7 linked regions of the Homo sapiens genome follow. The protein of the gene in region 4 interacts with the protein of the main gene of each other region in a pairwise test. Each region holds a gene or a part of one and is shown on either strand. Other genes may lie near its edges.

Region 1 (4,144 bases), on a different chromosome or scaffold from region 4:
TCCCCTTGGAAGGGATTCTTGAGCACTCCACACCCCTCAACAGCGAAACAGAACGTAACATTCTACACTGCAAGCTCCTACATCGGGGCCAGCAAGCTTTGTGTGTAAAAAGCCTAATAGTAAATATTTTATGCTTTGTGGGCCATTCAGTCTCTGTTAAGACTCCTCAACTCTGCCCTTGTGGCACAAAAACAGGTACAATGTGTAAAGAAATGGGTGTGGTTGTGTTTAGATACATTTTTATTTACAAAATTCAATGGCAGGCTGGATTTACCCCTCAGGCTGTAATCGGCTGACCCTGTCCATATTCTGAACACACTCCTGTCTCGCAGGCTTCTTTACAAGCCTCTATGTAAAGCACAGGCTGGTGAGGGCCCCAGGAAGAGCAGCACCGCCCTCGGCACAGGCCCCTACTCCAAGTCCTGTGCAGGAGCAGGTCTTGCCCAGCGCAGCAGCTCTGCACCTCTGTGGCACCGCTCTGCCAAGAGGGAAGGTGCAGGCCCTGCAGCCCATCGCCTTGGATCTGAAGACCAGCCCTGTGGGGCTGCTAAGTCATGAAACTGGCCTCATGGAGATTTCATAAAGCCCCTACCAGCTTTCCTGCCCTTCAGAAATGCTTACATCTATATATTTATGTTATATCTTCATATATAAAGAAAATGGAAAAAGTCAAAATCAGTTTGCTATCATTTACAATGAAAGGAAGGAAGACTAAGGATGTGTTTATGTGTGTGTGGAGACAGGAAAAGAGACAGAACCAACACTAATTACTGCAAAACGAAAAAAGAGAAAGGAAGGAAGACAGGGAGGGAGGGGGCAAAAATCTCATTCCATGCTCCACACAGTTCTCTTAAGTCTACAGGCCGAGGTTGTAGGAGCCTAGACAATCTCAGCAGGTAAGAAGATTCTAGGCCCACTAGACTTACACTTTACACTGAATTGAAGAAAATCATAAAAAGGGGTTTTGCCACCTGGATGTACAGCAGAACATAATTAAATTTAATCTTCTTGGGACAGTGTTTTAATGGGATAAATCAGCTCCCATTTAACCTCATACATAGCGACACAAAGAAAGGCCTTTCATGGCGCACGAGGTGTATAAACAAAGGGAAACCATATCTTTCTGGGCAAAACTGCTTTTCTGGATTGTTTATTATGTTTAATCAGCATTGTGGAAAATGCAACAATATCTGTTCATGGACTTGAGAACCCCAGAGTGGGAACAGCAGGTGCGGATGTGGGGAGAAGAAAGGAGGAGGGTCTGGAGAGCGGCCATAGGGGAGGCAAGTGTGAGGAGCCAGGAGTGGGGGCCCTGGGCTGCCCTAGACAGGGACATGCGGGCACCCCGTGGGGTCTTTGGCAGCTCACAGGACAATGGCAGTGGAGGTCTGCTCCCTAGAGGGCGAAGGGGGCACTGAATTCTCCCCCAGTAGCCTCTTCTCTGATCCTTCCTCATTCTGGAAAAAAAAGAAAAAAGAAATCCTTAGGGGAAAAGGATGCAGGCAGAGTTAGTATCATAGAACTCAGAAAGCAGAAAGAGGAAAGGAGGAGGGAAAGGAAAAGGTGACAGGAAAAGCAGATCAGGCAAAAAAAAAACAAGGTGGCAGAGGAAGGGGAGTCAGACGAACACCTGGGACAGGGCAGAGGGGAGAGTGGGGAGATCAGAGCAGAGGAGGGCGCAGAGAGGCACAGGGCGGCGACAGTTGGCCCAGGACCATGGTGATGGCCACATTCCCCAGACAGCAAAGGGGAGAGCTGCATATGGAAAGAAGCTGAGGGGCACCAGGCCCAGCCTCAGGTTCGGGTGCCCCTGGCCCCGCACTCCTACCTGTCCCACACACTCACCACCCAGACTCACGCTGCCCAGAGGCCCCTCCCCGACAACTCACCAGGGGCTGGGAGCTCTGGCCACACAAGTTTCGAAGACCTACTCCCAAGGAAACCAAGGACACAATGACCTTCAAGACACAGACAGCCAGGAACAGGGCACGGATTGCTGTGAACAACTTCTGGAGATAAGGGAAGAACAAAGATAGTCAGGTGTCAGCTACTCCAATGCTGCCCACATCACCACCCTCTCCACCCACCCAGGCACTGACTCTATCCAGCTTGCTGCTCCCACCACAGCTGACTGTGTTTCCAGCCACAGCTTCCATCCCGTTGGCTTGTCTGCAGAGTGAACTTATCACTCCCTGTCAAGAAGTGGAGACTATTCCTTCAACCCGTAGAATCTGGAAGGGCCTAGAACTGCTTTGGCCACAGTGAAAGTGACACTATACAGTGACAGGGAAGCCCTTAGCTGGTCTGGCAGCTTCTACTTTCTGTCTCCTGAAATGCTTGCAACTAGGGTACTCCCCATTGGAATCCAGTTTCTGTGCTATGAGAAGCCCAAGCCAAGTGGAGAAGCCATTGCCGGCTCTTGCTGACAGCCCCCGCTGAGCTCCGGACCATGCAACTACATCATCTCAGACCTCCAGCCTCGGCGAGCACTTGGATAACTTCACCCCCATCTGACTGTAACTGCATGAGAAAACCCGTGAGTGAGAATGGCTCATCTGAATCCAGCCAACTCACAGCACCGTGAGAAATAATAAGTTGTCATTTTAAGCCACTACATTTTGGTGTGGTTTTTAATTCAGTAATGGAAAACTGTGATACCAACACACCAGAAAAGCCAGAAGGGTGACCCACTATCTCCTCTCTGAAATGTCTCCTCTTTGTTCCTCACCCTCCTTGATTCAGAGAATCTTCGTGTCATGAGGTCTGAAAAATGTCTGTAGCTTACATTAAAACCTCCTGAATGAAAGACCCAGCATGAAGTCCAAGCTCAAAGAGCCTACATCTCTGTCCTCCAGGGCCCCCAGCTCCCTGGGAAAAAAGAGCTGTGATGGGTCCCCGAAGACTGGACTCTTCCTGCTCACCCTCAGCATCTGCATGTAAGCTCTACACTCCTCCTTCTGCCATTGGTTCTCTTGACTTCGCCGCATCCATCTGTACCCAGTGGTAGGGAAGACAGGGTCTGAGCGATCACACACAGTGTCGATGTATAAAAAGGGTTCAGTTTGCCAGATGAAGCTATTCACGCAGAGGACAACAGCAGCCATAGCTGTAGCAAAGCCTGCCAGGGTGAGCAGGCTGGATATATAGCCCTGGAAGAGAAAGAGGGTCATGACACACGCTCCTTCAATCGGTGGAAGAGTCATGAGGTCCCCGCCTCAAATCCCTCTCCTCTTCCCCAGCCCTTGTCCAGGAAACCCTCTCCTCCCCTCCAAGAAAGACCCCAAGATATTGACAACCAAAGGGCAGAAGACAGATAATGGAGCAGAATTCAGGAGGGGGTCAGTGAACAAGGTGGAGAGAGGGTGTCCAAGACTCACAGCAAGTTTGCCCGGGTGCTTCTCATGGACAATGGCCCCAGCTCCTGCTGCGATCACCTGAAAAGAGACACCAGAAAAAGGCCTCCAGTTTACTCTTCTGAATTGGTCTATCATCACCCTCCCACCAGCAGTTCCCAGAATAGCCAATGTGAAGCAGGATCCCAGGGACAGACAAAGAACTCTGACACACAGACCAGGATTCCACCTATACCTGCCCCACCCCTCCCATCTGTCTTCAAGAGAAAAATGGAAGTGACAGGGTTTTAGCTACACCCCAGAGCAGCCTCCTCATGGCCAAAGGCCATTTGGCTCCAGAGACTTTGGTCGCTTCCCCAAAGCCCCAACCAAGATCCATAAGCGCCTTCTTGCCCATCACCACTTGCCTCCCTCCAGGCTCACAGCCTGTTCCTTACTCACCACAGACCCCGCCCAGAAGGCACAGCCTGAGGCACTCAGCACAGTCCAGGGCCCCAAGCTGAGACACACTCCAAGAACACAACTCACAACCCCCAGCAATATCTGAGTCACCTGCAAGACAGGATGAGAAACCAGACCCCTTCCCGTGAGTCCACATGCCCCGGCTGCCCTGGGACCAGCTGCCTGGCTCCTACCTAGGTGGCTCTCCTCTCCTTTTCCTCTGCCTTGACCTCTCTGCAGCTCTGATTCTGGAAGATTCTGTCCCCTTAAAATCCATGAAGCAGCACTGGCCTGGGTCTCCCCTCACCCTTCTCATAGGCTTGGCTATTTATCCTTCATCAATTTTTCCC
Region 2 (4,362 bases), on a different chromosome or scaffold from region 4:
TGTTATCATATATGCAATATATACTCATAGGGCTAATTGGAAAGCAATTGAGGACCAGGAAGAATTACAGAAGGAATAAAGGCAATCTTCTGTTAATGTACTTCTTCGTCACGTATTGTTTTTCTGTTAAGGTGACCCAAATGATTGCTTAAGACTTGTCTCACTAATTTTCACTCTGTTCTGTGAGACAGGAAGTGAAAAAGTAGATCACTTTCTTCACTTTCTTTTTGTCCTAAAACTTTTGGTTTTATTTTATTTTAATTAATTTTTTATACTGACACATAATTGTGCTTATTATGGAGTACATAGTCATGTTGTGATGAGATGAGATGGAGATACATCTCCATCATCTCAAACATGTATCATTTCTTTGTGTTGGACATTTTTTTAACTTCCTCTTTATTGATTTTGTCCTGCACTCTGACTCAGGAATACATTCCCGTAGTCAAACTCTAGACTTTGTTATCACCACTAAATTCTCTCCTCCCATAATCTCAGTCTTAGGCATCCATATTTTGAGAAATCACCTTCTGTCTTTCCACCAACTTCTTCACTACCACAGCCTCAACAATCCATGTGGTTGGCACCTACAAACCATTCATTCCACGGCCTTTTCACTGTCCATGATCTCTCTCTTGTCTCTTTCTTACCCAGCTTAAAATTCAAGGCCAGTCATGATTATATGATCATCTCTTGGCATATACCCTCAGCTCAGTTGGCCCCCTCTCGTTTTGTCACTTTTGTTTGGTAAGACTTTGGTTAAATCCAACTTTCCACAGTAGAGCATGGCTGGAAAAAAATGCACGAACTTGCTCAGCATTCTCACTTGAGGTTCAGGGCCACAGAGTTGGTCCTTTCATGCTTCCAGATAATCACACTATTTTCTCTGATTCTTTCCTTCTCCACTTTCCTAGAGGACCATTCACAGTTGTTTCTCCTCTCTCATCACATGTTCAAGTCCTCCTCCCCCATCCTCACTTTCGTCAATGACCTGGCTTTGTATTTTGCTGAGAAAATGGAATAAATGAGAAGAAAGCTTCCATGTGATTCCACCATCATGTCTCTCTTCCTACCTGTACCTGAAGCCATATATGTGGTCTCTACTCTTGTTACTATTGATGAATTGTGTTCCTGTCTAAGAGCAACTCCTTCAGTTATGCGGTAGATTCAGATTACATCCCTTATCTACTGTATCATTCCAGGCAGCACATAATCCTGCTCTAATTTTGCTCCTCTTAAAAATCCCTATCTTTAGCACACTTCCTTCTCTGCTACTCTATTTCTTTGTTCTTCTTTTTGTCAAAACATATCCAAAAGACTTGTCTATTTCCAATTCCATTTTTTGGGCAGTACCTTGCTTTCCATAAGGCCATGGGAAGCATTCACATTGTGCTCCAGGGTATGACTCACTGAAAATACAAATGGTGTCCCCTGGGGTTGGCACCAGTCTCTTAAATCAGCTTTATTCAGGCATTGCCCTTATCGTTCTCCTTTTTTTGAGGTCTCCAGAATCTCTCTTGTGACCAAGCTAGTGTTTCTTTTCAGTGCTTCTCGTTGCTGTGATGCTCTTTTTTTCAGTGAGTCCTCTGACCTCGCCTTATTTAGAACATTCCCCTGGGCACTCTCTGCCCTTTTGCTTCATTACTTTTCACCATAGTATTTAATAAACATCTGACATATGCAGTGTTTGTGTGTGTATACACACACACACACACGCACACACACACACACATATGCTTGTTGATTTATTGTCTTTTCTTTCCTGTGAGAATATAAACTCTGTGAAGACAGGGAAGAATGTTACTTTTCTTCTTTATAGTGTTAAGAATTGTTGAGAATAATGACTAGCTTATAATAGGCATTTAAGATATATTTGTTGAAAAAAATGAATGTAGAGTCACTGCTGTATTCATTTTAAAAAGCTATTAGACTGATTTATGCAATTCCAAGGGGATTATCATTGTTGAGGCAAATTTAGTGGGACTTGACCCAAACAACAAATATTTTTCCAACAAAATGTCTTTCTTACAAATGTACTTTTAGAAAACCACATTTTAGGAATCTATACTCTTGGTTTACAGCTTTGTATTGTGTAAATGGGCAGTCTCTCTTTGATGGGTTTGCACACTTACCTGCCTCTTTCACCTGCCTCTCTAGATATGAATGCCACAATACGAAGGATTGACCAGTTAACCAACATCTTAGCCCCCATGGCTGTTGGCCAGATTATGACATTTGGCTCCCCAGTCATCGGCTGTGGCTTTATTTCGGGATGGAACTTGGTATCCATGTGCGTGGAGTACGTTCTGCTCTGGAAGGTTTACCAGAAAACCCCAGCTCTAGCTGTGAAAGCTGGTCTTAAAGAAGAGGAAACTGAATTGAAACAGCTGAATTTACACAAAGGTAAACTGAACACAATGATCTCTCCTTTTGTTCTCATGTTCAGACCTTAAATGTTGGTGAAGATCAAAACTATTTTGAATTTGTATCAGGTTTTATTACCAGTGGGGGCCAGATGAGGTTAAATATATCGCTTTGGTAGACGAGGCAAGAGCAGGCTTTTGAGGATCTAGGGAAAAACTCCGGGTTGAATCTGGTGGGGTTAGAATGGGTCCCCTAGCCCTCTTCCTTGATGTGAGCAGTAGTTATAGAGGTTCAATTTTACTTGAGAGATAGCTGGGCAAAGCTAAGTCATAGGACTGGGAAAAAATGTGGGGAAAAAAAGAGAATGAGAGAATCCCTTGGACTCTGTGAGGAGGGAGTTATGTAGTCATTTGTAGGACAGTGGAAGGGAGTGAGGACACAAAGATGGGTATTTCACTGGAGAAGAGGACGCTGGGCTTCTGGGTAAACAGAATCTTTTATCCAGCTCTGCAGGGACCCAGAAAATAATATGCTGGTTGTTTTTTGTTTTTTTGAGACAGAGTCTCGCTCTGTCGCCCAGGCTGGAGTGCAGTGGCGCGATCTTGGCTCACTGCAAGCTCTGCCTCCTGGGTTCACGCCATTCTCCTGCCTCAGCCTCCCAAGTAGCTGGGATTGCAGGCATCCACCACCACACCCGGCTAATTTTTTGTATTTTTAGTAGAGACGGGGTTTCACCATGTTAGCCAGGATGGTCTTGATCTCCTGACCTCGTGATCTGCCCGCCTCGGCCTCCCAAAGTGCTGGGATTACAGGTGTGAGCCACCGTGCCTGGCCAATACGCTGTGTTTTTTTAGACAATTTTAATATTTTATCTGGTGAGTTTTCCTGCTGTTTACTTTGGTGGGAGTATAATTTCTAAGAGCAAGAGAGAGAGAGAAAAAAAAGAGGGATAGATCAATAGTATTTTGTTTATTTAATAAAAATGACACTTGATGATTATTCCTTGGCTGGAATTCTTAGATTATTAGTAAAAGAAAATACATATTACAATGTCTAACCAAGGGTACCCATTGGGAAGGGGAATAGAAGGAAAAAAAGTACTACTAATAATTGGCTTTTATTTCTACATGTCCTCCCCAACAAAATAATGGTATCTTTTCTTAACAGATACTGAGCCAAAACCCCTGGAGGGAACTCATCTAATGGGTGTGAAAGACTCTAACATCCATGAGCTTGAACATGAGCAAGAGCCTACTTGTGCCTCCCAGATGGCTGAGCCCTTCCGTACCTTCCGAGATGGATGGGTCTCCTACTACAACCAGCCTGTGTTTCTGGCTGGCATGGGTCTTGCTTTCCTTTATATGACTGTCCTGGGCTTTGACTGCATCACCACAGGGTACGCCTACACTCAGGGACTGAGTGGTTCCATCCTCAGTATTTTGATGGGAGCATCAGCTATAACTGGAATAATGGGAACTGTAGCTTTTACTTGGCTACGTCGAAAATGTGGTTTGGTTCGGACAGGTCTGATCTCAGGATTGGCACAGCTTTCCTGTTTGATCTTGTGTGTGATCTCTGTATTCATGCCTGGAAGCCCCCTGGACTTGTCCGTTTCTCCTTTTGAAGATATCCGATCAAGGTTCATTCAAGGAGAGTCAATTACACCTACCAAGATACCTGAAATTACAACTGAAATATACATGTCTAATGGGTCTAATTCTGCTAATATTGTCCCGGAGACAAGTCCTGAATCTGTGCCCATAATCTCTGTCAGTCTGCTGTTTGCAGGCGTCATTGCTGCTAGAATCGGTAAGAAATCTCTTTTTATATATTAATGAACTAAAGTGTCTTTTTGTAATGTAGGTTCAGAGAATCCATTAATAAATGATCTGAAATGTTCCCTAAATGTTAATTTAAGCAAAATCCACTCTTACGAAATTTTTATTTTACATATTTATACTTTATATTTATTGTGTTTTTTATTTTATAGTTTGAAAA
Region 3 (3,673 bases), on a different chromosome or scaffold from region 4:
CCTAGGGTCAACTTTCCCAACCCAGAAACCTCAGGTGGGAGAAATCAGTGTGAATTTGCCTCCCTCTCTCTCTCACTCCCTCCTCCTGCAGCCCTCACAGAGAATCCACTGGGAAATAGAAAGGAAAGAGGACATTCTATTCCAGTGAGTCACCAGGTCCCTGAGTCTCTGGCCTGCTCTCCAGCCCCTCCCCACTGCCTCTCCTGGCCCCCAGTCCTTGTCTTCCCCCAATTCCCACCTCAGCTCACAGGCACAGGCTGAAGGCCTCAGAGCCAGGCTTCCTTCCTCGCTGTGGATCCCACTAGCTGTTCACAGAGCATATTCCAACGAGCCTCCAGGCTTCGGCACGTGGGCATCTCTGTTATCCACCCCATTGCAGAGAAGAGGAAAGTGAGACCCCAGCATTCTCCCAAGGCCATCCAACACCCTGCACCCCAGCACCACAGCCTCCACTTTAAAGAACTCCACTCGCTGCCTCCCAGCCCTCCCACCACACACAGGCACCAGCTGGGGCAGGATGGCTGAAAACGCAAGGCTTGGAGAAGAAACCCTGATCCAATTACCAAGGAAACTGGATTCAAGGCAGCCTGTGGATGGGGCTTCCTCGAGTTTCAGAGCTCAGTCTGCCCTGGACATGGGCTGAAAAAAGTACAGGGGCAGAGCCCTGGGGAGCCAGGCTCGCAGCGGCTCCAACCTTCCTCTCCCCGAGGACTGTCCCGCGGAAGGCCAGAGCCCTGCTGGTGCACACAGGACCTGCTGTGGGCAGGGTTTTGTGCAAACCCTGAATCCTCCCTCAGAGCTCAGACAGAGCCCACCCAATTCTTCCCACTCCACAACCAGCCCCTAAGAACCAGACAGAAGCCGCCTGCTCCAGCCACACGCTTCCCATCAGAGAGGGAGGTCCCAGGGCAATGAGGACACAGGCCAGGCAGCTCCCTCCCTCCCACTATGCTGCAATCAAGAGCCTCTTCACAAAAGCTTCTTAGTGGTTTTTATTTTCTTGGACTAAGGCACCGATGAATTGACTGTGCAGCCTCACACTGCCTTCTCCAAACCAAAAGGACATTCTCAGGGCCTCTCCCAGTGCCCTGCCCGCCAGAGGCCTGCAGCAGCCTGATGAGGAGGTCAAGACGGGCACTTCACATCCACTTGTGTGCTGGCTCTGCCAAGACACGCTTGTCATTTCTGGGGCTCACTGGGAGTCACTGTCACAAGACGGGCTGTCCAGCCCCGAAAGAGCACCCTTGCTCTCCACTCCCCAAACCCTTCAGCACTGCAGACCCAGTGTTCCTCCATTCTCTGCTGCCATAGTACACTGGGGCATGCCATGCAAATGCAGCTGGAGCAAGCCCCAGTCTATTGTTCCCCTCGTTCACCCCAGAGATGCATCCTTCCACATGGAAACATGGGGTCCACTTGTCCTGGGAACAGATGGGAGGGCAGGGGCAGCTGCTGTCCACAGGCACCGGCGACAGCAGCCTCAGCGAGCGTGGCGGGGATGGTGGCGGTGGGGGTGGTGGTGGTGGTGGAGGTGGTGAGGGGTGTGGCGGGGGTGGTGGTGGTGGTGGAGGCCCACATTCGGCACATGAGATACGTGGCCAGGATGACGGTGATGGTGAAAGATTCCCAGGTGGCCCCGCCGCCGGAAGGGCCAAGGCTGGGCCCGGCGGACTCGGTTTCCCCCTGCAGCTGTACGGTTCCTCTCCACGTCACAGTCCTGCCGTCCGTGGAAAAGGCAGGTGGCCAGCAGCAGCAGCAGCAGCAGGACCGCCACAGCAGCACCTGTGATCCATCCCACGAGGGCTGTGCTCCCCAGGAGGCCCAGCATCTGGGAGCCGGACAGTCCCTCTCTGCCCAGCAGCTCCTCACTCCTTTCTCCCCTTCAGCAGCCTCCGCTCAGCCCTCTCAGTCACTGAACTTTGTTGTCTCTGCTGCGGGCTGGAGAGCAGCCAGGGAATGTGGGCGAAGCCTGTTTGGACTTGCAACTGCTGGCCAAGGGTGAGGCCAGGCCGCTGTTAACTCTGAGGAGGCCTGGCAGGGAGGCCAGGTGGAGACAGAGGAGCTGTCAGGCTGGATCTGGTTGAGGGAGGAGCCCTGAGTCTAGAGGAAAGAAACCCTCCTGCTGCCTGGCTCAGTGACCTTCCCTCTCCGCACTTCAGTCTCCTCTCGTAGAGACTGTGTAGAACAGAGATGAACAACACGGGCTTTGGAGCCACGCCACTCACTTGCTCTGAGATTGTGCACAAGTTACTTAACCTCTCTGTCCTGTTTCCTCTTCTGTAAAATGGCTGATAACGGTTCCTTCCTCAGTAGGGTGTTCCGAGGACTAAAGGAGTTGAGATGCGTAAAGCAGCAACACCAGCTCCCGTCATGTTTGCAACTGATATTACTGCAATGGACTCCATGGCTCAGGAGACACTGACATCTGAGAGTCTGTGATTCCCTGTCCTGCAGCCTGCAGAGCCCTCCGGGGCTGAGTCAGGCTCTGTCAGATGAGCCATCCCGAGCTCAATGAGCTTGAGAAGCTCAGGGAGGCACCACAGGCAGATTTTGCCATCCAGGGAGGTCCTCCATCCGGCCTGTTCTGGGAGGCAGGAGGGTCTGGGTGTCCTCCCAAGCTTGCTGGGAGGCAAGAAGGAGGCCACTGAGCTCAGAGAGGGCAGGCACAGCCCAGCCTCCTGGTTCCCAGTTCAACAGTCTCAACTGGCCATAAATGGCATGCTCCTTGCTCTGTCACACCCTCCCTGCCCAGCAGTGATGAGTGCCATTCCTGCCTAGTGGAGCATTTACAGAGCGGCAGGATCTGAGCAGTACTGACTGTCCCTCCAAGCCCACCCGCCAGGCCCAAATCCCCTCTGTTCCTCCTGGGAGGCACCGTCCCATCCTGCTGACAGACCTCAGCAACAGGTGCTCACTCTCTCTCTGGGCAACCCTTTCTGCTGTGGGCATGCTGGGCTGTTCTCCAAGCTCTTCCTCACATGCAGTGGGGCTCCCCAAAGCCCCAGCTCTGTGTCTGGCTCTGCAGGGTCCCTCCAGGCTGAGTCCCCAGCCCCTCCCTCCAGGCTCATCTCCCTACCGCCTGGAGGAATGTCTGCAGACACCGCAAGGCTGGTTCTCTGAGTTCTGGCAGCACCTCCACCCTGTGATGTTGGGCAAACCCCTTGCCCTGATCCAGCCTGTCTCCTCTGCAGAACTCCCGGAGCAAGAGGTGACCTCCAGGGACCCTTCCCCCTCTGACCTCAGTCTGAGGTGAGTTCTCTTAGGGAGGCCTCAAACCCTTAATGAAAACCCTCACCAGATGAAAAGGCTAAACATTCCCTTCAACCAAACTGGGCTCAGGGGGCAGCAGGTCTAATGAATCCTGGCACTTCTTTGGCCCTTGGGGGAGCTACTTGAACTTTTAATGATGCTGGAGTAAGAACTCCTCCTGCAGACTCCTGGGGCCCTGGGAGCCCGGCTGCCTTCCCTAGGGAAGTTAAGGAGGGAAGTCTGTTGTGAGGAGGAGGAGGAGGAAGGCAAACAGGGGATTTTCGTCCTCAGAACTTCTCCAGGAAGACTCCCACCCCACACCAGCCGCTGGCGGCGGGGCAGGACCTTACAACTATGAACTTGAAGAACTTCAGTCAGCTCAAACGGCCCCTTGGAATCACCCAGACTCAGCCTTCACTGACAG
Region 4 (4,362 bases):
CATCACCTAGGTAACGATGTAATTTCTTAATTCTCAGTCAATGGCTCCCTGCTGTAAATATACAACCTCTTGGCCTCTAATTCAAAGCCTTCCAAAGTCATATCTCAACTTAATTTTTTAGCATTTCTTCCCACATTTTCCTACCCAAACCCCTTCCTTTACCCTCAAAGAGTATATAATCTATAAACATTGACTCAAATGGTACTTCTTCAACTTTCAAAACTGCTTCAGGCACACAGTAGAACACCACAGTAGTGCCCCATGTAGATGGACAAAATCTTTTAGGTGATGAGAGGGAATATTCATCATCTGAAACTCAGAGCAAGAAAATCAAATCCATGATGTGGAAAAACTTCACTGGAGACATGTTCCACATAGGGAAGCAATGCTACTTAAAAGAATAATAAGGCATGGCTAGAATAAATTTGGGGAATCTGGGATAGAGGTCTGAGACTCCTCCTACCCCTCAGCAGGGCTATTTAAATGGTTAAATGGAAAACAATCAGAAGAAACAGGACAGGAAGGGTGGACTCCCCATACTGCTGGCTTGGTAAGTCTTTTAGCTACTTGTGACTCAGAATGTGGCTGAGGACTATTAGCATGGGCTTGGGAACAGCATCACCTGGGAGCTGGTTAGAAATACAGAATTTTGGGCCCACCCAGATCTGCTGGATCAGAATCTGAATTTTAGCAAGATCCCCAGGAGATTTATATGCAACTTAGCATTTGGGAAGCAGTGCTTTAATTTCACAGAGCCTCGGTTTCTTCATCCATTGTAAATTATGGATAATGAAATCTACTTTAAAAGGCTCTCGTGATCCTAAATGAAATATAACAAATGAGGATGCCCAGTAAAGTGACTAGCACACAGTAATCAGTGGTGAACGTGTTTTGGAAGATCCCATATAGTTGGGTAAGTATGACTGCAACCCACTGGGACTTTAGTTCTGCTTTTGATGCAGGACAGGCAAGCACCAAAATTGGGGCTTAGCCTGGGAGGGTTCTTGGCTTTGCCCAGGAAAGAATTCAAGGGCAAGCTGGTGTTGTTAAATAGCCATTTTTATTGAAGCTGCAATGTATAGCAGCAGCACCTCTGTTCCTTGTGGAGCAGGGATATTCCATAGGCAGTGTGCCTGGAATAGCAGCTCAGAGGAGTCTGTTCTGTACTCATATTTATTTTTAATTATATGCAAATTAATTTAAATTATAAATTTGATTATATGCAACCCACGTTTAATTATATGCAAATTAAGGGGTGGCTTATGCAGAAATTTCTAGGAAAAGGGTGGTAACTTCTGGGTTGTAGAGTCATTGCCATTAAAAGGGGCTGGAGATTGCCATGTTGCCATGGCAATAGTAAACCGACATGGTGCACTGGTGGTCATGTCTTATGGAAAGCTGCTCCTGCCTGGGACCTGTTTTAGCTAGTCCTCAGTTTGGTCTGGTGTCCAAGCCCCGCCTCCAGAGTCAAGTCCCTCCTCCTAGCTCACTTTGATCTAGTTCCATCACAACACATAAAAGTAGGGTGCTGGCTCTTAAGAGCTAATGATCAGACTTACAGAAAATTTGCAAGCTAATTGTTAGCATAACCATTATTAAAAATTAAATTATATACATTTACAACTAAATTATATTGAAAGCAAGTGTAATATGCAAAACATCACTTTCCAATGATTTTACTATATTTGGCCATCTGTGCTTGTGAGGTTATTTACATCTACTGTATCTGCATGGTGGAAATGCTGTGTAATGGTGCACACTTCTAGCCAACTCTATGTCCTGTGATGTCATTTTTGTAGGCTGAAGTGAACCACAGTGGGTATATTTACACCAGAGCAATCAATAAACACTACAAACTGGGGCTTTCCCTCCCAGAGAACTAGTTGTTAAGCATTCACAAGCATGACACAGTAAATATAGCACTTATGGCCACATGCAGTGGCTCATGCCTATAATCCCAGCACTTTGGGAGGTCAAGGAGGGCAGATCACCTAAGGTCAGTAGTTCGAGATCAACCTGGCCAACATGGTGAAACCCTGTCTCTACTAAAAATACAAAAATTAGCTGGGCATGGTGGTAGGCGCCTGTAATCCCAGCTACTCAGGAGGCTGAGGCAGGAGAATTGCTTGAACCCAGGAGGCAGAGGCTGCAGTGAGCCAAGATTGCACCACTGCACTCTAGCCTGGGCGATAGAGTGAGACTCTGTCTCAAAAAATAAAAAAAATAAAAAATATAGTACTTATAATTGCTGCTTGTTAAAATTAAAAAAACCCTGGGATTGGTGAGGAATTGCTTTTTTGTCTCAGGTGACACTCAAAATCATTGATGAGGAAGTTATGGGTTATACTTGGGTCCACTCTTAGTCTTATTTACAATCTTTTCATAATGCCTTACTGTTTTTTTAAAAAATTATTCATGGAAGACAATGTGTTTTATTTAAAGTTGGCTTAATCTGTGAATACAATGGGGATCCATGACATTCTTGTCCTATTGTATAAAATCTGGAAATTGTAGGCATTAACTATACAAAAAACAAATTGCTTTCTCATTTCTTTAGGCTAGGCTTCTCACTCCTGCATGCAGGCACAGAACAGAAGAAGGGCAATGACCGGCCAAGCTTCAGATGGTGTAAGAAAAAGAAGTCGAGGCATGGAGACAGCCTTTGGGGGAAGAATAATGAGTACTTACCTTGACAGAGGGGATTTCAACAATAGGAACAAAATAATGAGATCATCTAAGAAGGTGGATAATTGACCAGGGCTTATAACACAGGAATGCACTGTCAGTAGGGATTTATGACCAATCTCCTACTTGTTGAGTGGGATGTGAATAATTAACTAATTTCTTAACCCACTGAGCAAGGGTTAAAGATTGAGTCACCTGTTTACTCACAGCCTGTCAGGGAGTGAGTGTTAGCACCTCTACCTGGTGGCGGAGGAGGGAGTGCAGAGAGAGTGAATGCCTGCAGGGCCAGAGCTGCCCAGGGGTGCAAGGTGGACTCCGGACCTCCCCTTGTTAATGTGTCTCTCCTGATTTAATGCGTCATCTTTAAAGAATCATCCTCAATTCTGCAGCAATAAAAATAAAAACCTTCCCTTTCACCTTGCAAGCCTCCCGCAGAAAGCCCCAGGAAGAGCCTTGTCAGGGCAGCTGAGGAGACAATTAATAACCATGGGTGATGGATGAGGTGCACGTGGCCTGTGCCTCCACTTTTATCCCTCTTCCCTTCTGCTGCCAGTTGGGCCCCAGGCCCCTGTGAAGTGCATATGCCTTGGGGGTGTGATATATTAAGCCATCATTATTCATCCTTAACACATTTGCAAGTTTTAATTCAGCCTAAAATAATATAATCAGAGAAAATGTTCTACTTGCATTTAACATTATACTCACAGGTTTGGATTATATCATAGATGTAGTTGGGGATGGCATGGGAGGGCAACAAGCATAAAATGCATTGACTTTACCATGTATTTCAGTTATATATTTATATTTTACATGTAAATTCATAATTATATATTTATATCTAGATAAAATTATATGTTTGTGTATTATATATAATAATCTATAGTTATGTATCACTATCTCACTAGGTGATTGCTGATTAAGGGGAATACTATTACCCACAATGTTGAACACAGTGCCTGGCCATGGAAAACACTCAATAAACGGTGTTATGAATATTAAATAATTAGCCCTGACGGCCAAGTTATCTAAAGTGCCTATCAACTATGAAGCAAATTTTTGGTTCCTTTTCCTTTTGAGGACTTCTAAAAATGTCTCATTGGTCATCAAGAGAGCAAAGCTGCATGTTGTAGGAAACTTGCAGCACAGTGAGTGTGGGATTCCAAAATGCTGGATAAGTAAGAGACATAGCAATAGCTTGATCCATACAAACACTGACTACTAGCTTGCTGAAGACAAGACTCATCAGAGAGGCCTCTCGTCATCTCTCCAGGGACAATGATATTGCAGAGGTGGACATTTACCCCTCGTGTTGTAGGCAGACCCTGTTTCCCTTTCTTTAAGTTATGGCTTCCACATATATGGTCATATATGGCCCCAGGAACCCAATTCAGGACTCTTGCAATCCCACGGGTATTAGGGAGATTCTACATTGGGCCTGGTGCTGGGGGCTCCCAGCATATGCGAGACAAGCAGAGGATAGGATTGAGCTCAGAGGCCCTGAAGGCTGATGGCCAGGTGGATGGTGATGAGGCCAAAAAATGAATTGGGAATTACAAAAGGGATGAGATCATCTGTTACTCTCCCTTCCGACTTGAAGCTTCTGCATAGCCCCCATGGAAGATTTGCTGTGTAATGTTGAAATATCTGTCTATGACCCCAGAGAATTTGAAAATAAAG
Region 5 (4,362 bases), on a different chromosome or scaffold from region 4:
CTGAGGTCAGGAGTTCGAGAACAGCCTGGCTAACATGGTGAAACCCGTTTCTACTAAAAATACAAAAAATTAGCCGGGCATGGTGGCATGTGCCTGAAATCCTAGCTACTTGGGAGGCTGAGGCAGGAGAATCGCTTGAACCCGGGAGGCAGAGGTTGCAATGAGCCAAGATCACGCCACTGCACTTCAGCTTGGGCAACAAGAGCGAAACTCTGACTCAAAAAAGAAAAGAAATCATCAAAAAAGGCCAGTGGTGACTCATGCCTATAATCCCAGCACTTTGGGAGGTTGAGGCAGGTGGGTCACCTGAGGTCTGGAGTTCGAGACCAGCCTGGCCAACATGGTAAAACCCTGTCTCTACTAAAAATACAAAAAATTAGCCAGGCGTGGTGGCATGTACCTATAATCCCAGCTACTTGGGAGGCTGAGGCAGGCAGGAGAAATGCTTGAACCGAGGAGGCAGAGGTTGCAGTGAGCCGAGGTCATGCCACTGCACTCCAGCCTGGGTGACAGAGTAAGACTCCGTCTCAAAAAAAGAAAAGAAAAAAATGCACTGGGAGTTGGCTGATACAAGTGTTTCCATAACAGATGCACACAATACTGCATTAACATAAAACAGATAGGTATCTAATTATGTGGATGCCTTTATATTCACACTGACTTCTCTGCTGATTAAATTTACTAAGATAAAGAATTAAAATTACCATCACAGGTCTGAAACATTTGTATTTGAAATTATTAACATTCATATTTGCCTACCACCCATTTTTATTTGGTCAGAAGATAATTCTTATTACTTGAGTTAACTTAGGAATTAATTTATGTTGGGTTAATACATGTAGTTAATTCATGTAGGGACTAAACACAGACCTTCCAATTAACAAAGAGTTACATCAAATAATTTAAAAATACATGTTTACCTGCTGTGACCATTTTACTGCTTTCTCTGTTAGGTATTTGTATACAACTGGTCTCCCAACTAAATAGGAAAGCATATAACAGAAAGAGGCACCAAGTCCAGAACACTGGAAAACAAAAGAAGCCATAAGCGTTTTGTATTTTTCCGTCTTACTCACATTGATTTATTCACCTGAGTAAAAAGCTCAATTAATTTACTTCTTTCAGAGGTGGGGAGGGTACTCTGCATGACATCTCTTGTGCAGAGATGATCTAGTACTTTCTCAGACCAAAATGTACCTCAAATGAGATCAGCTAAAACAAACTGGCACTTGTGATTACACCTAGTGACTATATCCAAATAATTAATGCTAGGCTTTAGCCTAAGAATAAAATTTCAGGAGCCAATTTCCACCTCCCCCCGACCCTACCCCCGACCCCCCCAGTTCCTAAGCTTGAAAACACCACCTCTGGCTCTGGGACTTAACTCATTGTGCTCACCAACACTCCTTGGACTGTCGCAGTTACAAAATCCAATAGGAAAGAAAAGCTAAAACATAGCTTATAAATGCAACTAAGTCTATAATTGGTCTGTTCTGGGGGAAAAACAAATTATAACACCTCCTTGTGGAGGGACTTTAACATTAACTCCTCTTCAATTAATGAGTTTATGCTTACATAGACTAGTAGGGTTAAAGTATCATCATCATCCTCATCATTCTATTGTTTTTTCAGTCTCCCAATTTTATTTTTTCATACTTACCAAACAAACAAGAAATAAGGCTAGTGGAAAGGGATAAAGAAACCCTGAGAGTATACTGAGAAATATAGAGCCTGGAATAGCAAATGTTTGCAAGCTGGTAACTTTTAAGTTAAGGATTAGAATATAATTAAGTAGAATTTTAAAAGACAAATGTAACATTTCAGGAAAAAAGTATAAATACAAAAATTATCATACAATGAGATTATATCCAAAGGTCTAGCCTCTAAGTTGACCATTTACTAAACAGTATCATAAATACTAGTAAGTGTGTGCTACTAAAAGGTTTCCAAGACAAAAAACCGTATGTTCTAGATAGAGAGGAACCGGGCACTTTGGGGGAGGAACAAAAGAAAAAAGAAAAGGTCTTCCGTAATCTTTTAGTGCTTCTCTAATACATTTTATTTTACTCCCAAATGTTTTCAGGGAAATCATGTACATACAATTATTTCTAATTTAACTATGAAGGTTTACCTAAATTCACTACTCATTTTAAAGGAATAGGAACTACAAGAGAATAAAAGAAAATAAGAAAAATAAGAATAGAAATTACAAAATATAGTAAAAGTCACAAATCTTATTTGAGAAGGGGTCTTGCTTTGTCACCCAGGCTGGAACGCAGTGGCGCACTCATGGCTCACTGCAGCCTCAAATGCCCAAGCTCAAGCAATTCTCCCACTTCAGCCTTGCAAGTAGTTGGGATCACGGACGTGTGTCACCACACCAATTTTTATTATTTGTAGAGATGAGGTCTGGCTGAGTTGCCCAGGCTAGTCTTGAACTCCTGGGCTCAAACGATCCTCCCACAATGGACTCCCAAAGTGTTGAGGTTACAGATATGAGCGACTACACCCGGGCCACAAATCTTGTTTTTAAAATAGATTTTTTTTTTTTTTTACTTTCCTGTCGTTCCCAGTTTGGATCTGAACCTTTTTCCCCTCTAATATGATTTACTCACAAGTCAAAGTGAATTCCCTCAACATCTCTCCATCTATCCTCACTCATTAACTATTCCTTTTTCTCTAGTTCCCATTTTACTCATGTTCTCATTTCAATCTCCTCCTCCTTCCTCCTGGGTTTTTTCACCTTCAACTCTGTTCTCTTTCACAGGATGCCTCCTCTACAAAACTACTCAGTTGTCTATAACTTAAAAAACAACCTCAACCAGGGTATCCTATCCAGCTACCGCTCATCTTCACTTCCTCAGAGGAGATTCTCTCCTCGTTCCCTGTGACCTGCTTTACTATTCCACTATGCTATTGAAACTTCCTCACAGCCAATAATAACTTTTTCTCAATAGTCACCTTTCAGTGATCCCTGCATAGGATTAGACTTCATCCTGCATGAAACATGGCTTCAGTGAACTGTACTTTTTCTTCTACATTACAGGTAATTTCTTCTCTAGATTTTTCTCTTTGCCCTCAACTCTTGAAATTTCTCTAACATTCTGTTGGCCACACAATCCCTTTTCTTTGATAAATTTGGCAATTTCCATGGCTTCAAGTATCAACCACATATAGTACTAAAAACTCGAAATTCTCTTTGGTTCATCAGCCTCAAATTTTCCACCTGTCTCCTACATGTCTCTGTCAAAAACAAAACACACACACACACACACACACAAACACACACACTTTTTGGGTTAAGATTGTACTATATGGACCGGGTGGGGTGGCTCATGCCTGTAATCCCAGCACTTAGGGAGTCTGAGGCAGGCGGATCACAAAGTCAGGAGATCGAGACCATCCTGGCCAACATGGTGAAACCGTCTCTACTAAAATACAAAAAACTAGCCGGGCGTGGTGGTGGGCACCTGTAGTCCCAGCTACTCGGGAAGCCAAGGCAGGGGAATCGCTTGAACCCAGGAAGCAGGAGATTGCAGTGAGCCGAGATCTCGCCACTGCAAGCCAGCCTGGCAACAGAGCAAGACTCCATCTCAAAAACAAAACAAAACAAAACATCATATTATGGATAGTTTCACACATATGTAAATGTAGAAATACTCAATGTAAATGACAAGTTGATGGGTACAGCAAACCAACGTGGCACACATATACGTATGTAACAAACCTGCACGCTGTGCACATGTACCCCAGAACTTAAAGTATAATAATAAAAAAAAAAAAGAAAGAAAAGAAAGCAAGACTCCAAAGGATGAAAGGAGATAAATGGAAATTTTCCCTTGAGGAAATTGAGAGAAGCAGAAATAAATGAGGACAAGTTCCCAGGAAGTGTTTTGTTGTTTTTGTTGTTTAACGCAACTGTATTTTTTCCTTTCCCAAAATTTGGTGCAATTCCTACTTCTCTGAAAAGGAAACCTAAAATTACAGCTGAAATTGGGGAAAAAAAAACAAAGTAGAGAAACTAGTGTTATGATGCCCTATATTAACATATTTCAGGCTGGGCACCGTGGCTCCCGCCTGTAATCCCAATACTTTAGGCAGCTGAGGGTGGATCACTTGAGACTAGGAGTTGAAGAACAGCCTGGCCAACACGATGAAACCCTGTCTTTAATAAAAATACAAAAATTGGCCAGTCACAGTGGCTCATGCCTGTAATGCCAGGTACTCAGGAGGCTGGGAAACGAGAATCTCTTGAACCCAGAGGGCAGACGTTGTAGTGAGCCGAGATCATGCCACTGACCTCTGGCCTGGGAAATAGAGTGAGACTCTGTCTCAAAAAAAATAAAAATAAAAATAAGGCTG
Region 6 (4,362 bases), on a different chromosome or scaffold from region 4:
TGGGGAGGCTGAGGCAGGAGAATGGCGTGAACCCGGGAGGTGGAGCTTGCAGTGAGCCAAGATCGCGCCACTGCACTCCAGCCTGGGCAACAGAGCGAGACTCCGTCTAAAAAAAAAAAAAAAAAAAAAGCTGGGCAAGGTGGCATGCACCTGTAATCCCAGCTACTCGGGAGGCTGAGGCAGGAGAATCACTTGAACCCCGGAGGCAGAGGTTGCAGTGAGCCGAAATCACGCCATTGCACTCTAGCCTGGGCGACAAGAGCAAGACTCCATCTTAAAAATCAATAAATAAAATATTTCAACTTTTACATTTCATATAAGCTCCTAAACTACTCACTGTTGCTGATGGACAGTGACATTAATTTTTGTGTTATCATATAGGGGTCAAATTTGAGTGTCTCCACGGACTAACCTTGCTAAACAATTATATTTTTATTGAATTGCAGATTCTTTTTGGTTTTCTTTTGTTCTGTCTGATCCTTCCCCTTTGGTGTGGCTAGGACCTCTGGATTTGAGAACAGTACTGGCGTACCTCCTTTTCTTGTTTCCAATTTCTCAGTTAGCTACTTGGCTCATAAATTTTCAATCTTTTCTAATTTTATAGCATATATAGCATTTAATGCTATATATATTTTACCAGGTCTCACTTTTGTTCACCTAAGTTTTTTTTTGTTTTTGTTTTTGTTTTGAGATGGAGTTTTGCTCTTGTCACCCAGGCTGGAGTGCAACTGTGCAATCTCAGCTCACTACAACCTCTGCCTCCTGGGTTCAAGCAATTCTTCTGCCTCAGCCTCCTGAGTAGCTGGGATTACAGGTGCACGCCACCACGCCTGGCTAATTTTTGTATTTTTAGTAGAGACGGGGTTTTACCATGTTGGCCAGGCTGGTCTCAAACTCCTAACCTCAGGTGATCCACCCACCTCGGCCTCTCAAAGTGCTGGGATTACAGGTGTGAGCCATCACACCTGGCAGTTTACCCAAGTTTTGACTGATATTTTTTATTATTCTGTTTGGGGTGTTTTAACATTTCCCTTCTGATTTCTGTAGAGATGGGGTCTTGCTATGCTTTGACCTATGGATTATTAAATATTTTTAAATTTTTCAAACATAGATCTTTAAAAAATACATATTTATTTCTAGCTCAATTGCACAGATGGTCTATTTGAAATAATTTCTTTAAAATTTGGTAAGATTTGCCCTATGGCCTGGAATGTGATCACATTTTGTGACTATTCCTTGTTTTCTTGAAGGACATATTCTGTTTTTGTTGTTTTGCCTTTTTTCACATGTTCTAATTGAAGGACATATTCCCTGGCTCTATGAGTTTAATAAATTCAAATCTCCATCTTGCCTAACCTTTTGTCTGTGACTTATCAGTCAGCAGAAGTTAATCTCCCTCTGGGACAAGAGAGCTCTCAATTTCCCTATCAATTCTGTCAGTGTTTTCTTTATATATTTTGCAGCCTATTCACAATTCACAGATTAGTTCTATTCACAGATTTAGAACTGTTACATTTTCCTGGTGAATCAGCCATTTTATCATGATGTATGGAACCCTTCTGTCTTCTAATACTACTTTTTTTTTTTTTGAGACAGAGTTTTGCTCTCGTTGGCCAGGCTGGAGTGCAGTGGCGCAATCTCGGCTCACTGCAACCTCCACCTCCTGGGTTCAAGCGATTCTCCTGCCTCAGCCTCCCAAGTAGCTGGTATTACCCGCCACCATGCCCAGCTATTTTTTGGATTTTTAGTAGAGCCAGGGTTTCACCATGTTGGCCAGGCTCGTCTCGAACTCCTGACTTTGTGATCTGCCCGTCTTGGCCTCCCAAAGTGCTGAGATTACAGGTGTGAGCCACCGCGCCTGGCCTATTCTAATACTACTTCTTAGTCTAGTTTGGCTGGTAGTAGTATAGCCTTTCTAGCTTGCTTTCTTTTGATTAGTATTTGCTGTATCTTTTTAACATCCCTTTACTTTCAGTCTTCCAGTGACTTTATGTCAAGGTATGTCATCCTTTAAAAAACATGTAGCTGGATATTTTCAATGTAGTCTGACAGTCTTTGTCATTTAACTTTAAAGTTTAGTCTACTTACATTTATTGTGATTACTGACATATTTGACTTTGTTTCTACCATCTTACTTTTTTGCTTTCTATTTGTTCCTTTTCTGTTGTTGCAGTTGACATTGGCTGTCAGCCTAATTGTTGTTCCTTTGTAGGTGATCTGTCTTAACTCCCTGGCTGCTTTGTAATTTTTTTGTTTTTGGTGTTCTGCAGTTTCACTCCATTATGTCTAGGTATGGATTTCTTTTTATTTACATGGTTTGATATACTTTGTGTCTGTCTTTCATTCTGCAAACTTCTCAACCATTCTCTTCCAGTAATTCCTTTTATTCTTCATTCCTTCTCTTCCCTCCCTCTGGGGCTCTGATTTGATTTGCGTTGGGCTCTCTGTTCTGTCTTCCTTATCTCTTAGCCTCTCTTCATATTTCTCACCTACTTGTTTTTCTGAGTTGGAATCTGAGTGATTTCTTCAGATCTGTCTTCCAGTTCATCACTTCCTCCTTTGGCTGTTCCTAATGTGCTGTTTAACAACCTATTATTTCAATACTTACAGTTTTCCTTTGGAAGAGTTTAATTTGGTTCCTTTGCAACTCTACCCAGTCATCTGAAGGAATTCTCATGTCACTTGTTCTGTGATTACAGCTTTCATTTCCTTAGTCATTTGACACATAATTGACAGCACCAATTTCTGAAGTCTTTGAGGCCTAAACTTGACTGTTGTTTTTCTGTTAACTCTCCTTTATGGTGATTTGTTTCCTTATGCATTTGGTGATTTTGCCTGTGAGCTCATATGAATTTGCTCCTTTTTTTTTTTTTTTTTGACAAGGTCTTGCTCTGTGCTGGAGTGCAGTGGCATGATCTCAGCTCACTGCAACTTCCACATCCTGGGCTCAACCCATCCTTCCCACCTCAGCCTTCACAGTAGCTGGGACTATAGGCGTGCACCACCACCCCTGGTTTTGTATTTTTTGTAGAGATGGGGGTTTTGCCATGTTGCCCAGGCTGGTCTCAAACTTGTGAGCTCAAACGATCCACCCGCCTTGGCCTCCCAAAGTGCTGAGACTTACAGGTGCAAGCCACTGCACCCAGCCCTGCTCTTAATTTTTGAAAAATCTTGGGTCCTGAATTGAGGATTCCTTCCTCCAGGAGGACTTTGGTTTTCTCCTGCAGGAGTCCTTCATCCCCCTCTAGATTCCTTCTATAACCTAGGGAGCTCAGGCTCAACAGATACCCCTGAATGTTCCCAGCCCAATCAGGAGTGTCTGCCTGGTGCATTCTGTTTCGTTTTCTTTGAGACTGAGTTTCACTCTTGTCCCCAAGGCTGGAGTGCAATGGTGCGGTCTCAGCTCACTGCAACCTCCGCTCCCCATGTTCAAGCGATTCTCCTGCCTCAGCCTCTCAAGTAGCTGGGATTACAGGCACCTGCCACCACACCTGGCTAATTTTTGTATTTTTAGTAGAGACGGGGGTTTCACTGCATTGGCCAGGCTGGTCTGAAACTCCTGATCTCAGATGATCCGCCTGCCTCAGCCTCCCAAAGTGCTGGGATTACAGGCGTGAACCACCACTCCAATCTTGTTTCTTGTAAAAAGTACTGTGTAACTAGAGCACAAAATTGTCCTTGTGCCTGGCTCAGGGCCTGGCAGACCCTTGTTCATTCCTACTTGGGAAGCAAACGGATGCCTGAGGGATGGGGGGTTAGGGAACAGAGTGGCCTTAGAGACCCTAGGAATTCACTCTACTCGGTCCTCTTCTTATCGTCCCCAGGTCTGGCCAGCATGACCCAGAACTTAGAGCCACTTCTGAAGAAGCAGGGCTGGGACTGGGCGTGAGTCCTGGGAATGGGGGAGGGAGGCAAGGGCAGGCTGGGACCCTCCCAGGGTCCCCCAGGCAGGCTCGTGACCTGGTGTTCTCCTAGGCTTCCTGTGGCCAAGCTGGCTATCCGCGTGGGACTGGCAGTGGTGGGCTCTGTGCTGGGTGCCTTCCTCACCTTCCCAGGCCTGCGGCTGGCCCAGACCCACCGGGACGCACTGACCATGTCGGAGGACAGACCCATGCTGCAGTTAAGTGGGTCGCTTGGTGGGTGGGGGGACTAGGGAGCTTAAGGGAGAGACTCGAGGAGAGGGGGTACCCAGGCCTCACTCCCTCCTGCCCTCACCCCCCAGGTTCCTCCTGCACACCAGCTTCCTGTCTCCCCTGTTCATCCTGTGGCTCTGGACAAAGCCCATTGCACGGGACTTCCTGCACCAGCCGCCGTTTGGGGAGACGCGTTTCTCCCTGTGCGTATTGGGTGGGGCTAGGAGGT
Region 7 (3,383 bases), on a different chromosome or scaffold from region 4:
GCCGGAACAGCCTGCCCCACCCCCAGCCCTTGGATGACTCAACCAGCCCGTCTCTGTCTGGTGGCCCTGGCCGAGGGCACGCAGAGATGACGCAGGCCTGGGACCTGGAGGCTGGTATCCTAGTTCCAGCCTGGCTCTGGGGCCCTGGGCTGCCACAGCCAGCCCTGAATGTGGGCCATGTCAAGGCAATGGCCCAGCCCCCTCCACCCACTGCCCTCCTTCCCAGTCCCAGAGGTTGGGAGAACCTGGGGGCAGAGGGCATAGGAAGCCGCGCCTGACAGACACCCTCAGTGGTCAAAGACTTAGAAATGCAGAACGTTAGAAACAAACCATCTCAGAATTTTGGAACATCAGCATTTCAGAATCTTACGAAACAAGAAACAGAATCTTTGAGAAACCTGAAATCTGAGATCATAGTAGCTACCAGTTATCAATTTGTTGAAAGACCCCAGGATGGCCGGGCACGGTGGCTCAAGCCTGTAATCCTAGCACTTTGAGAGGCCAAGGTGGGAGGATCGCTTGAGCCCAGGAGTTCGCGACCAACCTGGACAACATGGCGAGAACCCATCTCTATTTAAAAAAAAAAAAAGAAAAGAAAATATACTAGGCCCTGCGCTAAGCACTGAACACGGGTTATATCTTGTAATCTTCACTACCTCCGTCCCATTTTACAGATAAGGACTGACTCACCCAAGGACAGCCAGCAGGTGGTAGGTAGAATTAGGAACGTAGCCCAGGGCTCTTCCCATGACACTGTCGGGGAGGGAGAAGGAAACCGGCACTGAGCTGGTCTCCCCTACCGGCCAACCAAGAGGCTGGCTGAGTGAGCAAGGGTTGGGAGGCCCTGTTGGTGCACCTGCCCGTACTGTCTATCTCCCCCACCAAAACACGGGTCCCACAAACCACTGTCTGCAGCACCCAACACAGCGGGGCCTTCAGGATTCTGAGTTAGAGGAATGGACACCCAGACTCTTGCTCTCGCTCCCACCTTTCCAGGCCCCGCAGACTTCCCACCCTCATCCCCCATTCAAGGCACTTAGGGGGCACCCATTGGATGCAGGAACTCCTAAACCAGTGGTCCCCCAACTAGCTATGGTAAAGGACCAGTTTTCATTTCTAATCCATCACGGTCCAGTACTTTCATAAGAAGAACTAGCCGGGTGCCGTGCCTCATGCCTGTAATCCCAGCACTTTGAGAGGCCACGGTGGGAGGATCACTTGAGCCCAGGAGTTCGAGACCAACCTGGGAAACATGGGAAAACCCCATCTCTACAAAAAATACAAAAACTTAGCCAGGCATGGTGGGGCGCCTGTAGTCCCACCCACTTGCGAGGCTGGAGTGGGAGGATCACGGAGCCTGGGAGGCTGCAGTGGAGTCATGATTGCACCACTGCACTCCAGCCTGGAAGACAGACTGAGACCTATTTAAAAAATAAATAAATAAATAACATAAAAATTTTAAAAACTAGAAAAATGAAATAAAAAACATACAGAGGCTGGGCGTGGTGGCTCATGCCTGCAATCCCAGCACTTTGGGAGGCCGAGGCAGGTGAATCATGAGGTCAGGAGTTCGAGACCAGCCTGGCCAACAGGGTGAAATCCCATTTCTATTAAAAATACAAAAAAATTACCGGGCATGGTGGTGCGCACCTGTAATCCCAGCTACTCAGGAGGCTGAGGCAGGAGAATCGCTTGAACCCGGGAGGCAGAGGTTGCAGTGAGCCGAGATCACGCCACTACACTCCAGCCTGAGCGACAGAGCGAGACTCTGTCTCCAAAAAAAAAAAAAATACAGAATACAAGTCCACAGTTTATCAGATTAATTAGACATAAAATTACATTTCAATAAATATAATCAGAACAAACATAGGAAAAAGGAAAAATGACAAAAACCATTGAATATGAACAAACAGGCAATTAACACAGAATCGCAGCTAACAACTTTTTACTCCTTGTTTTTTTTTTTTTTGTTTTTTTTTTGAGACGAGTCTCACTGTCTCCCAGGCTGGAGTGCAGTGGCCCGATCTCGGCTCACTGCATCCTCTGCCTCCCGGTTTAAGCGATTCTCATGCCTCAGCCTTCTCAGTAGCTGCGACTACAGGCACATGCCACCATGCCCAGCTAATCTTTGTATTTTTAGTAGAGACAGGGTTTCACTATGTTGGCCAGGCTGGTCTCCAACCCCTGAGCCACCTCGCCCGACTTCATTCTACAGTCTTAACAGAAAGCAATTTCAGAAGTGGTGATTCCCATCATTAGAAGTCTGCGTTAGGAATCAGCAAGGTATAGTCCACAGAGTGGTTTTTATATTTTGTAATGGTTGGAGAAAAGTCAAAGAATAATAAGATTTTATGACATAAAATTATATAAAATTCAAATTTCCATGTCAATAAATGAAGTTTTACTGTTATTTATTAAAATTTCTGATATAGCCACACTCATTTGTTGACTTGACTTTGCACTACAAACTTCAACAGCAGAGTTGCGTGAGCAGCTGCAACAGAGACCAAAGCCTCAAAGCTGAAAATAATTATTCTCCAGCCCTTTACAGAAAGTTTCCCCACCCTTAGTCTACATGAACACTTTGACAGAACACCGTGAATCTGACTTTTCTCTCCAGTTATTTATAAGATTTGCTTTTTATATTCTGTGGTTTCAATGGGATATATCCAGATATATATTTATTTTTATTTACCCTACTCTGACTTCAGTTTGTTCCTTCAATCTGGGGAGTTGAAGTCTGTGGAAGTCTTTATGGAAAATTTTCAGCCATTATCTCTTTGGTTATTGCTTCTTGTTCATTCTCTATGTATGTCCTCCGTCTGAGACTCCCAAGGACTTATCTGTCTTTTTCTTTGAGACAGGGTCTCTTGCTCTGTCACCAAGGCTGGAGTGCAGTGGCACGATCACTGCAGCCTCCAACTCCTGGGCTCAAATGATCCTCTCACCTCAGCCTCCTGAATAGCTGGAACTACAAGCATGAGCCACTACACCCAGCTTATTTTTTTATTATTTTTTTTAAGAGGCAGGGTCTTGCTGTTAGGCTGGTCTCAAACTCCTGGCCTCAAGTGATCCTCCTGCCTTAGCCTCCCAAAATGCTGGGATTACAGGCATAAGCCACCACACCCAGTCTTCCAGTGACCTTTTTTTTTTTTTTTTTCCGAGACGGAGTCTCGCTCTGTAGCCCAGGCTGGAGTGCAGTGGTGCAATCTCGGCTCACTGCAAGCTCCGCCTCCTGGGTTCACGCCATTCTCTTGCCTCAGCCTCCCTAGTAGCTGGGACTACAGGCGCCCGCCACCACGCCCAGCTAATTTTTTTTTGTATTTTTAGTAGAGATGGGGTTTCACTGTGTTAGCCAGGATGGTCTCGATCTCCTGACCCTG

Evidence for each region.
Region 1: the proteins of SLC22A2 (region 4) and TMEM176B interact in a protein complementation assay, tested with the Homo sapiens proteins (one large-scale study listed by BioGRID).
Region 2: the proteins of SLC22A2 (region 4) and SLC40A1 interact in a protein complementation assay, tested with the Homo sapiens proteins (one large-scale study listed by BioGRID).
Region 3: the proteins of SLC22A2 (region 4) and HRCT1 interact in a protein complementation assay, tested with the Homo sapiens proteins (one large-scale study listed by BioGRID).
Region 5: the proteins of SLC22A2 (region 4) and TMEM41B interact in a protein complementation assay, tested with the Homo sapiens proteins (one large-scale study listed by BioGRID).
Region 6: the proteins of SLC22A2 (region 4) and TMEM161A interact in a protein complementation assay, tested with the Homo sapiens proteins (one large-scale study listed by BioGRID).
Region 7: the proteins of SLC22A2 (region 4) and TMEM134 interact in a protein complementation assay, tested with the Homo sapiens proteins (one large-scale study listed by BioGRID).

The regions. Positions count from the first base shown.
Region 1 is NC_000007.14:150,790,167-150,794,310, forward strand, and holds the end of TMEM176B (transmembrane protein 176B), read right to left. Parts: intron 3,906-4,144; coding exon 3,795-3,905; intron 3,435-3,794; coding exon 3,378-3,434; intron 3,150-3,377; coding exon 2,922-3,149; intron 2,010-2,921; coding exon 1,890-2,009; intron 1,458-1,889; coding exon 1,365-1,457; 3' UTR 1,135-1,364; downstream 1-1,134. UniProt on the Homo sapiens protein: May play a role in the process of maturation of dendritic cells. Required for the development of cerebellar granule cells.
Region 2 is NC_000002.12:189,563,395-189,567,756, reverse strand, and holds part of SLC40A1 (ferroportin), read left to right. Parts: intron 1-2,157; coding exon 2,158-2,403; intron 2,404-3,531; coding exon 3,532-4,173; intron 4,174-4,362. UniProt on the Homo sapiens protein: Transports Fe(2+) from the inside of a cell to the outside of the cell, playing a key role for maintaining systemic iron homeostasis.
Region 3 is NC_000009.12:35,904,443-35,908,115, reverse strand, and holds HRCT1 (histidine-rich carboxyl terminus protein 1), read right to left. Parts: upstream 1,915-3,673; 5' UTR 1,829-1,914; coding exon 1,481-1,828; 3' UTR 980-1,480; downstream 1-979.
Region 4 is NC_000006.12:160,252,069-160,256,430, forward strand, and holds part of SLC22A2 (solute carrier family 22 member 2), read right to left. Parts: intron 1-4,362. UniProt on the Homo sapiens protein: Electrogenic voltage-dependent transporter that mediates the transport of a variety of organic cations such as endogenous bioactive amines, cationic drugs and xenobiotics. Functions as a Na(+)-independent, bidirectional uniporter.
Region 5 is NC_000011.10:9,286,782-9,291,143, forward strand, and holds part of TMEM41B (transmembrane protein 41B), read right to left. Parts: intron 1,762-4,362; coding exon of another isoform or gene 1,755-1,761; coding exon 1,661-1,754; intron 1,026-1,660; coding exon 921-1,025; intron 1-920. UniProt on the Homo sapiens protein: Phospholipid scramblase involved in lipid homeostasis and membrane dynamics processes. Has phospholipid scramblase activity toward cholesterol and phosphatidylserine, as well as phosphatidylethanolamine and phosphatidylcholine.
Region 6 is NC_000019.10:19,121,282-19,125,643, reverse strand, and holds part of TMEM161A (transmembrane protein 161A isoform 1 precursor), read left to right. Parts: intron 1-3,824; coding exon 3,825-3,885; intron 3,886-3,975; coding exon 3,976-4,119; intron 4,120-4,222; coding exon 4,223-4,336; intron 4,337-4,362. UniProt on the Homo sapiens protein: May play a role in protection against oxidative stress. Overexpression leads to reduced levels of oxidant-induced DNA damage and apoptosis.
Region 7 is NC_000011.10:67,460,764-67,464,146, reverse strand, and holds the end of TMEM134 (transmembrane protein 134), read left to right. Parts: 3' UTR 1-2,437; downstream 2,438-3,383.